Linked DNA regions of Homo sapiens: region 2 is linked to region 1. Evidence: fine-mapped expression QTL. A gene starts in region 1. The other region holds a variant in brackets. All regions are shown on one strand. Distances are between the middles of the regions.

Region 1 (5,379 bases):
GAAAGGGTCACATATATACACATTCATACATACACAAGCAGAGTGGTCAGTGATTTCATCCACAGCAGCAGAGACACATATAGAAAAAACAAATACTGTTGATGTCTGATTCCTTCTTATCGGGAAAGGGGCCCTGAGGATATAACTTGGAGGGACTATATGGTCAGAGGAGAAAGTTCCTCCTATTTCATAATAGCTATCACCTTGCTACTCCTTCCTCAAATCCAAGGCAGCCAGCTCCTTGGAAGAAACCAGTCTGTTACCCTTCCCTCTCCCACCCACCAACTCACCTGTTTCAGAAACGAAAATCTGCAGACTCTGAGGGAAATAACCCCCTAGTTAGCCATTAGGAAATTAACAGAATCTACCACTCCTGAGATTACATAAGGTGGGGCAGCTGTGTCCACACGCCTCTATTTCCCTGAAAGTTATCAATGGTTATGAGCGGTCTTGTTTCGGGCCCCGCCCAAACTTAAGGTCGCTTGAGTTTTCTCTCTGAGTGAAGGGGGAACTAGTCTGGACCACCCTTTTCTTGCTGGTGCCTTTACGGTAGTTTTCAAATTGTTTAACCAATCTCAGCGTGAGAGTGAGCCAGGAAGTTACCATCCTCAAGTAGGAATCCAAATGGGGAGAAGGGCTACGACGCAAGCGCAGGGTTCCAAATCATGCAACAGGACCTGCAAACAGACTCACACCCCAGACATCAAGAAGTATCTCCCAGCCACACATCTACATGGAGCTTATGTGGCCTCTCCTAGCAGAGGTAGCTGGGGCAATTGGGGGATTGGAGGGCATAAGCCTCCCATCAACCTGGGATCCCTATTTAAAAGATGCTAAAAATAAATTAGTAAACATTGCTGTTTACAGAAATAGAAATCATTTCTGTTTCCAAAGGCCTCTCACCATCCCAGTCCTGGACATTTCCAAGACTGCCACCCCTGACACCCTCTCCAAGGTCCGCCCTGGTGGATGGGTGAGACACCAGAGTCCTTTGAGACTGGGAGCTCCTCAGGCATCTGAGAATTCCAGTTTCACATCCCTGGTTCCAGGGAGGGGAGAATCTTCAGTACTCTGGAGAGTACGGGAGTTCATCCCTTCTTATCAGTTCCTGGGGGCTGTCTTGAGGCAACCCCCACTTTTAGGATGATATACACGTTGCAAGAATTCCCGCTATTTTCCGGCCCCCAGTACCTCCCCAGAGTCCACATGTCTGCCTGGACCCACCCTCAGAGCAGAGGAACCAGTCTGTGCCTTGGTGTAATGACTCTGGGAAAGAAGGATGGGCAGAGAGAAAGCAGGGACAACGGCCTGGGGGATCATCCTTGAGGGTAAGACTGACAGCAATGACTGTCCTACAGGCAGGTGGTGAAGCTGGGCGCCGGGCCGGGACCGGAGCCGGAGGCGGAGCTTTCCACCTCGCTGGTGAGTGGCGGGTCGATGCGGGGAGTTCGACGACGTCCCCGGTACTCGATCATATCTGGATGATAGGTTGGGTGGCGGCGAGCATGCTTGGTCAGGTGGTCGCTCCGGGAGAACTGCTTGGGGCAGAGGGGGCAGGAGAAGCGCTTCTCGCCCGTGTGCGTCCTGTAGTGGCGGGCCAGCTCGTCGGAACGCGTAAACTTCTTGTCGCAGTCGAGCCAGTCGCAGGAGAAAGGGCGCTCACCCGTGTGGGTGCGCTGGTGGGACTTGAGGTGCGACGACTTGTAATAGGCTTTGGTGCAGCCCGGGAAGGGGCATTGGTGGCGCTTGGCAGCAGGTGTGACAGACCTCCTCCGGGGCGCCTGATCCGCGGCGGGGGCGGGGCCTGCCCCTAGGGCCCCTCCAGAGAACCCACCAGAGGCTGCTGGTGCGCCCGGGGCAGCAGGCGCGCTTGGGACGGCGGGCGCATCGGAGGAGCTCTCGGGAGCGCAGACCGCCGCGGCGCCGGAGGCGGGAGCCAGCTCGGAGCACGGGGTCTGGACGGAGCACGGGATCGGGTCGGAGAAGCCGGACGAGGCGCGTGGAGCTTCCCCCGAGTTCTCCCAGGAGCCCTCGCCAGAGCTGCCGCGCAAGTCCGCCCAGACGCTTGCAGCCAGCAGGTGGGGCGCGGCGCCGCCCGCGCCGGGGCTGGGGGCGGGGACCTGCGGGAGCTGGGGGACCGACGCGGGCCCCGGTGGCCCCGGACCCGGCAGAGCGGACTCCGGCGGCGCCGCACCCACCTCCGAGCCAGCGGCTCCACCCGCGCCCTCGGGGTCCGGCGGGCGGCGGTGAACCACGGCGCCCGCGGACATGGACACCAGGCACTCGGCGGCGAAGTAGTCCAGGCACGCCACGGCGGCCGACATGCTGGGACCGCCCGGCCGCCGGCGAGCGCCGTCCGAACGCGGCCGGCCGCGGGCGACGGAGTTCCCGGGAGCGTCCGTCCCGCAGCCTCGGAGCGAGAAGCAGGAGGCCGGGTGCTCGCCGCCTGCCGCCTGCTGCCGCCGCCGCCGCCGCAGCCGCCGCTGCCGCCGCCGCCCGCGCGGAGCCCGCCCCGCCTGACGCGCCCCTGACGCACCGGAGCCCGCGGGGGCGGCAGAGACCCGCCCCGGCCCGCAGGACACCCCCTCGGAACGCGCGGCCCCCGGCTAAGTCATGTTTAACAGCCTCAGAAATTATCTTGTCTCCGCGTTCTTTCTTCTGCCGGCGAGCCAGGTAATGGTAACAGAGCGAAACTCCCCAGTCGGAACTTCTGGGTTGCAGCAGCCTCGCCCCCCCTCCCCGCAGCCCGCCGCCCGCTGGTCCGTCGCCAGCTGGGTGTCCCGCGGAGTCCCAGAAAGTTTTTTTTTTTTTTAAGGAAAAAAATTGCTAATACCTGACATGTCTTTCGGTTCATAATTGCGATTGTTAGCGAAGTGGTCTCGAATTCCATTTCACTCCCCGTTCGCCGCTCTCAGACTAAATTGCAAATATCCCCAAGTCTGTAGCAAAAAAAGTTTTCTCATTGAGCAGGTCAACTGTGAACCCGGGGCCGGGAGCAGTTCCCTAAATAGATCCGCTACGTAGCCATTAATTAATAGCATCTCGAACCAGAAACAGTTTTAACCTTGGAAAAGCAAAGAATCCTCTCCCGGTTGAAATTGAAACTTAAAATCCTTTGAGTAACGATTTAACTATTCAGCCAACGAAAGAAAAATGCATGTTTAAACTGCATTAACCTGTCACTGGCATCCAAACAAATTTAAACGCTGAGATATAAATTATAGTCTAGCGGCGAGATAAACACATTAAAATGGACTCCCACCATTTTAATAATAGAAAGTCACGTTTCCAATTAGGCATTATCTTGTAATTTGCTTTTGACGAAAGTTAAATGTAAGGAAATGCAGCACATGATATAGAATGCTCATATGGTGTTTTGTGATTGTGGAGGTTTGCCTTTTTTATAATCAAATGCATGTACGGTTTCTTTTACGTGTCTTCATTGCTCTCATTTTTTCCCTCGTTTTTCTTTTTAAAAATGTAAAACTACATAGAAAAACAAACAGGATAATTTCTAAAAATAGTCATATCTTAGTTTTTGATGTATACAAGCTTTTATATGAGTGAATTGTGTGCATTTTATTTGTAGTTCTTCAGTACTTTTTCTTTTGAAAATTAATACGTATGTATCAAGAATAACATACGTTCATGTATTTACTGCCTAGGGTAATCAAATGTGAAATTTTTGTTATAGTTGTTTCATGTTTTTATTTATATTAAACATTACAGATAGAGTTGAATGTCACTTTGTTTCCCTCCCCAGTTCCATTCACCTTTCTCCCTCTTCACTTTTCTAGGTAATTAGTATTATAAAGTGGCTATTTAATCTGCATTTGTTTTGATACCCGTATTACCTAATTATACATGTAAATATATGTATATCTCCATGCTTATTTATTAAAATTTTTAAGTAAATGGTTCACTAGTATACATATCATTTTGCAACTTCTTTCCCTCAATATGATTTTGACAGCTATCCAGGTTGACACCTATAGAATCTACTTTATTCATTTCAGCAGTTTTTAAATAATATTGTCAGTGTTATTATTTTTAAGGCGATTCCATTGCAAAACAGTTAATTTTTCTGAAGTTCCTCTAGACGATTAACTCTTCGTTAATCTACACATTAAAATCTATCAGATAGAATAATTTACTAGCTGTTTTAATTTTATTATTTAGAAAAAATGTGAAGATATTTAAAATGCAGAGAGAACATTACAAGCACCCATATACCTGTCTCATATAATGAATATGTTAACATTTTGTTATATCTCCCTCAGATCTATTAAGTATTCAACATTTCTGATAAAATTGAAGGTCCCCTTGTACTGCCCCCAATACCATTCTCCACCCTTTTCCCCAAAGGCAAACACTAACATGAATTTGGTATGTAACTTTCCAGTCTGGGTTTTACAATTTAACTGGATGTGAACCTATAAAATGCAGAATATTGGTTTATATGATTTTTTTAAATGTACAAACATGGTATTAGGCTGTGCATATTATTCTTGGACTTATTTTTTTCATTCATGGTATGTTTTTATTTTTTCTCTTCGTGTTGATAAATATAGATCCAATTCATTCATTTTAATTGCTATAGTGTGGATCCATGCATACAAATGTGTCCTGTTTATTCATTCCCCTATTGATGAATATTAAACTGCTGCCAATATTTTGGTACTACTTGTACATGTTTCCTTTGCACATATGTGAGAATTTCTCTATGTATCTACCTAGATGGGGAATTGCCGGGCTCCACACACATTTTCAGTTTTGCGAGAGACTGCCAAATGCTTCAATTTGCACACCCATCAGAAGTGTGTGACAGTTCACGTTTCCCTCACATGATCTTCAACACTTTCTAGATTAAGATTTTTATTATTCCTGCCAATTTGATTATTTTAAAAAACAGTATCTTGTTGTCTTATTTGAATTTCCCTCACTGCTAGCAAAGTTAAGCATTTTTTCCCCATATGTTTGTTGGTTATTGAGGTTTCCAAGTCTGTGATTTGTTTTTTCACAGTCTTCATTCATTTTTTTCAGTAGATCGTGTATGTTTTATCTTTTTTCCTCCTGATTTGTAGGAATTCATGCGTGTAAACATTAAATATATTGTCTCAGTCTGTGGCTTGTCTTTTAACTGCTTTTGATGTCTTTTGTACTATAGACAATTTAAAATGTACTCATATTCATTGATCTCTTTCTTTATAGTGTCATTTGTGGATTATTAAAGAAACCTCTCCATACCTGATGCATAAAGGTAGCCTCTTATGTCTTCTTCCTTAATGTTTTAAAGTTTTGCTTTCCACACGAGATTGATCTATCTGGGACTTATTTTTTTTGAATGGTGTAAAGTAGGAATTCAATAATTTTACTCCT
Region 2 (5,379 bases), 23 kb after region 1:
TCCTGGTCATAGAACCCCAGTCAGCTTTGGGAAGCTGCCCCTCCCCAGTGGAAGTGGATCCAGGGGGCTGGTAAGGTGTCCTGTCAACTCTAGGGCAAGGACCTGGGAAGTTGCACTCTGAGTCTGGAGTGGGCAGCTGCCCACTGACCTCAAGAGCTGCAGACCAGCTGGGTCGCCAGCACCACATTTCTGATCCTTGCTTTTCAATAGTTCCTTTAATTCTTTGATTTGCTGCATATTTTCCAATAAATCCTGCCGTTCTGAAGTTAGCTCCAGTAGCCTTGCTTGTAAAGAAAAAGAAAAAGCCACAGACTAGAGGTTTGGGATCGAGAAGGGGTTTGTATTTCAGCAGTGCAGATAACTTCAAAGGCAATGTTCGACAGTCTCATTGATTTTACTTAAAAAGTCTTTGGCCGCTCTGCCACAGGACTGTGCTTCTTTTCACCTTCCCTCATGGGCCTCAGTCACCTCATATGTGGTCCCCCCCATTTCCCCTCCATTCCCACCTACGAATTTCCCCAACTTTCCTCTGCTCATGGATGAGTCCTGCAGAGCAGCGTGACTCTCTCTCTGTACTGTCTCCTTTCCAGCCATGCCATGGGGTGTCACCCTCCATATTCAAAGCAGTCTATCTAGGTCTTCTCAAGACAATTCTCTCTTGAAGAGTAACCAAGAGCAACAGCAAGCCTGCTGTTCAAAAAGTACATCTCACTCTGCAACAAATCAGTGCCTACTATGTACCAGTTCTTACAAAGTGACACGTCATCTGATGGAGCAGGTCATTGTATCTTGTGAATGCTGAATAAACCAACAGAACACTGATTTATAAACCATAACAACTTATTATTTAGAGTCAGGGTCTTATTCTGTTGCCACAGCTGGAGTGCAGTGGTGCCATCATAGCTCACTGCAGCCTCAAACACCTGGGCTCAAGGGATCTTCCTGCCTCAGCCTCCCAGAGTGCTGAGATTACAGGCATGAGCCACCTCACCTGGCCTCAACAATTTATTAATTTTAATGTAATCAACAAACAAATGGATTAGAATGGGGGTTGTCAAACTGTGGTCTGCAGGCTGTTTTTGTACAGCCCATGAGCTAAGAACATTTTTAAAGCAGTTTTAATGGGTTGCAAAACAAAAAGAAGAATCTACAACAGAAAACCCATATGGCTTGAAATCTTGAAATATTTATTCTTTGGCGCCTTACAGAAAACATTGGCTAACCCCTGGAACAGAATACTCTTGTAACAAGGTCCTTGAGACTGGGATGGATACCCAGACCTTAGGAAATTGATCAAAGTTGGGCTATTTTATTTGGGGATTGCCTATTTAGGCCAGGAAGCCCTTTCTTCCTGTCATTATAGGAGGTGGCTAATTCTATGGTTGAAAAGGAAAGAGGGAGGGATGTTCTGTGATTGCTGGGCCCAACTTGGAGGTATGAGGAGGCCAAAGAGGTTCTGGGGTAGGAAGAGCTGCTCTTGTCCTGTGGAGGGCCTGGAAGTTGGGCCCCACTGGCCTCTGTGGTCTTTGTCAGAGGGAGTGGTAGCAGAGGAGGCTGGGGCTGTGGATTTGCAGGATTGCATGTGAGAGAGGCAGTCCTGGCAGTGGTGGAGTAGCCCTGGATGCCCCTTAGTTCAGCAGGAGGGGAGGTATGGGGTGAACAAACAGTTGTGGGGATTGACCTGGATTGGGGAACATTTGAAGCTGGCTCTCCCAACTTGTTATAGCAGATGAGCCACGGAGTTAACTGGCTCTCAAACAAATGGATGCCACCCTTATCTCCTGATATCCCTGGCTTCTCTACCTAAGATTGCATCACCCTTACCCCTTTCTTCTTATAGATCCTTTCACTTGTTGCTTTCTCTTCTTGCTACTTAGTACTCTCTAGCTCTGATATTATTTAACCCACCCCTTATTTCTCATTTGTCTCCTTCACTAGAATGCTAGCCCTATGAAAGCAGGGATCTGTTTTGTTCACTGCTTTAACTATAATGCTTTGAACGGTGTCAGGCACACAGCAAGTGCTTAATAAATATTTGTTGATTTAATTGAATGAACTTTATTTCCTTCATAATATTCGTGGGAAAAGAATCACTGGAAAGTCTTAATTCCTACTAATTTGGTCAGGAAGGGGCTTAAAGTCCCTCCAAATTGAACGTTAATGGAAATGTGATCGTATTTTCTATCCTTAACTAATAAAGACTGCCATATTGGTGATATTAGTATCAGTTTGCCAGTACATTTCTTCTTAGCAAAATGCTTACATAGGATGCTAACTTACTAACAAAAGGTTATTTACTGAATCTGGAATCAGAATAAAGGTTGTTGCAGGCATAATCATAGTAGCTGGTGTTAGGAAGCTGTGGGATAGCCTGATGACCATGCACGTGGGATGGGAATACATCTTTCAAGGGGATCAAGAAACTTAGGGAGTATCCGGGGCCCTTCTCTCTCCCATATAATAATAACAGGCCACACTCATAGTGCCTATTCTGTGCCAGGCACTGTTTGTTAAAGTCTTTCTGTGTAATTGGTTGAATGAGTTTATGAGTAATAGTGAATATTTTGAGCATTTACCACATACAGGTACTATTCTGAGAACTTTTCACGTTATTTCATTTACTCCTCGTGAGAGTCTGATGCAGTAGGTTCTGATTGTCCTCCCCATTTTGCACCGGGGCATCAGACACATTGACAGGTTGAGTAAGTTGTTTGAGCTCACACAAATTAGTAGGTAATGGAACTGGGATTTGAGCTCTGGTAGCCACCAGGCCCCTGGTGGACAGTGCTGGAGACCTACTAACTACTGTTGCCACTGGTCTTTTACTTCTCTTCTCTTTTCTTTTCTTTTTTGAGACGGAGTCTCGCTCTGTCACCCAGGCTGGAGTGCAATGGCGTGATCTCGGCTCACAGCAACCTCCACCTCTGTGGTTCAAGCGATTCTCCTGCCTGAGCCTCCTGAGTAGCTGGGGTTACAGGCGTGCACCACCATGCCCAGCTA[GTTTTTT/G]TTTTTTTTTTTTTTTTTTTGTATTTTTAGTGGAGATGGGGTTTTACCATGTTGGTCAGGCTGGTCTCAAACTCCTGACCCTGTGATCTGCCTGCCTCGGCCTCCCGGAGTGCTGGGATTATAGGCATGAGCCACTGCGCCTGGCCTGGTCTTTTTTTTTTTTTCTAAACTATACGTGTATTCCAGCCCTTACAACACAGAGCTCTGCAAGTAACAGATGCCCCCAACTTAAAAAAAAAAAAAATGAAGCAAATCCCAGTTCCACGTTCTTCTGGAGATACCTCTTCCCCTTAATTTGACGTGTCTGGCTCCCAAGTCTCATCAGGAATAGGCTGTTATTCTCTAAATCGTAACTATCCCTTGTAAAAGTAGCTACCACTTTAATTCGAAAACCAGGCTAATATTTTAAGTGTATCAAGAGAGGCTTTTTATTGTCACTATCTGTTGAAACCTTCAATAAATCTGAGAGTATTCTTAGAATCAACACATAACTTTTGTGTTTTGTAAGTTTGGAACGTTGCCTGTTGGATTTTCTTAGTGTGGCACATGATTGAAGGGAGCATGTTAACCTTTTAACTAAAATAAAGTGTTTTTGCACAAATTTAGTGATTATACCTGAGCTGGTTAATGTGAGAGAAATGATCTTAAACATGAGCTTACTCTCTTGTTGTGGAGGTAAGACAGACACAGGCTACAATTTGATAACCAATAAAATTGCTTTTGATTAGTGCCAAAATGTATGGAGCAGATATTGAGTCCAGTATTTGGATAAGATAAAATATCTTGGAATATTTTGGGACTAATTTTAGGATAGACATATCATTTTTAGGAATGTTTATAACAGTCCCCATCAGGAGATAATCCCTTCTAGAAGGTTTCTTAGATTTGAACAGTCTTGTTTAAAAAGATAAAAGCTCCTAGAGGGAGCTCACTAAAGGGAATGTGGTTCCCTCTAGTGGTGGTAGAAGAAGTTGTGAATTTTCTTATTTATTTCTTTTTTTCATATTTATTCATTGCATCCTGATACATAGTAGTTCCTGTATTAGAGATACAGAAATAAAAGACACAGTTTTATTTATCAAACTCTTACAAAGTTGGAATAGAGAAGAGCAAATAATTATGATACTGTATCTGAAAATAGTAAAAAGCCTCCTAGTCCAGATCTGGAGGGATGGGGTTAGACAAGGAAAGACTTCCTGAAGAATTAGATGTTATCTGAGTTTTTATAAAAGGAGCACCTATTATTTCTTCCTCTATACAATAGTAATGTATTATACGGGTATATTTGACGTTTATTTTGGAAAATTTGGGAAACAGATGAGTTTTTAAAAAGTCCATTATTTTCTTCACCAAAAGATAACCACTTACAACATTTTGCTATATCTGCTACAAGCCACTTTTTATGGATAATTTATGTTTTAACAGAATTTATGCCCATGACATTTTGTAATGTACTTTAAACAAGTTAATATATTTTGAAAATTTTCTTGTATTACTACATTCACTAGTATAACATTATTCGTTCTCAAAATAGTTTTCCCCTTTTTCCCACTGTTACTTTTTCAGGTGAACTTTAGAAAAATTTTGTTCATTTTTAAAATTCCATCGATATTTATTTATTTATTTATTTATTTATTTATTTATTTGAGACAGAGTCTCACTCTGTCTCCCAGGCTGAAGTAAAGTGGTGCGATCTCTGCTCGCTGCAACCTCTGCCTCCTGAGTTTTAAGAGATTCTCCTGGCTCAGCCTCCCAAGTAGCTGGGATTACAGGCACCCACCACCATGGCTGGCTAATTTTTTTTTTTTTTTTTTTTTGAGATGGAGTTTTGCTCTTGTCACCCAGGCTGGAGTGCAGTGGCGCGATCTCAGCTCACTGCAACCTCCGCCTCACGGGTCCAAGTGATTCTCCTGCCTCAGCCTCCCGAGCTGGGATTACAGGCGTGTGCTACCATGCCTGGCTAATTTTTGTATTTTTAGTAGAGGCTGGGTTTCACCATGTTGGCCAGGTTGGTCTCGAACTCCTGACCTCAGGTGATCTGCCCGCCTTGGCCTCCCAAAGTGCTAGGAGATTTTTTTTTTTTTTTTTTTTGAGACGGAGTCTAGCTTTGTTGCCCAGGCTGGAGTGCAGTGGCGTGATCTCGGCTCACTGCAAGCTCCGCCTCCTGGGTTCATGCCCTTCTCCTGCCTCAGCCTCCTGAGTAGCTGGGACTACAGGCTCCTGCCACTACGCCTGGCTAATTTTTTTTGTGTATTTTTAGTAGAGACGGGGTTTCACCATGTTAGCCAGGATGGTCTCTATCTCCTGACCTCATGATCCGCCTGCCTTGGCCTCCCAAAGTGCTGGGATTACAGGTGTGAGCCATCGCGCCCG

Direction of the effects. Alleles are on the strand shown, and positions count from the first base shown. SD is a standard deviation of normalised expression in the study named.
For the expression in subcutaneous fat of the gene that starts at base 2,498 in region 1, GTTTTTT is the low allele of the variant in region 2 and G is the other (moderate effect, 0.51 SD a copy in FUSION).

Evidence for each region. PIP is the estimated chance that this variant, and not a neighbour inherited with it, causes the effect.
Region 2: its variant is the best candidate, but not a certain one, in a credible set for the expression of KLF14 in subcutaneous fat (FUSION, PIP 0.58).

The regions. Positions count from the first base shown.
Region 1 is chr7:130,731,710-130,737,088 of GRCh38, forward strand. KLF14 (KLF transcription factor 14) reads right to left here and starts at 2,498. Exons shown (of 1, transcript NM_138693.4): 1 at 1-2,498. The coding sequence starts at 2,324. The coding sequence ends at 1,353. LOC105375508 (a long non-coding RNA gene) reads left to right here and starts at 2,555. Exons shown (of 4, transcript XR_927978.3): 1 at 2,555-2,673; 2 at 5,212-5,260. RefSeq lists an enhancer at 1,569-2,106 and silencers at 2,002-2,161, 2,232-2,311.
Region 2 is chr7:130,754,688-130,760,066 of GRCh38, forward strand. All of the region lies in intron 3 of LOC105375508 (a long non-coding RNA gene), which reads left to right. Among named protein-coding and RNA genes, the nearest start is that of KLF14, 23 kb to the left of the region's middle. The variant GTTTTTT/G (reference allele first, on the strand shown) is at 3,001.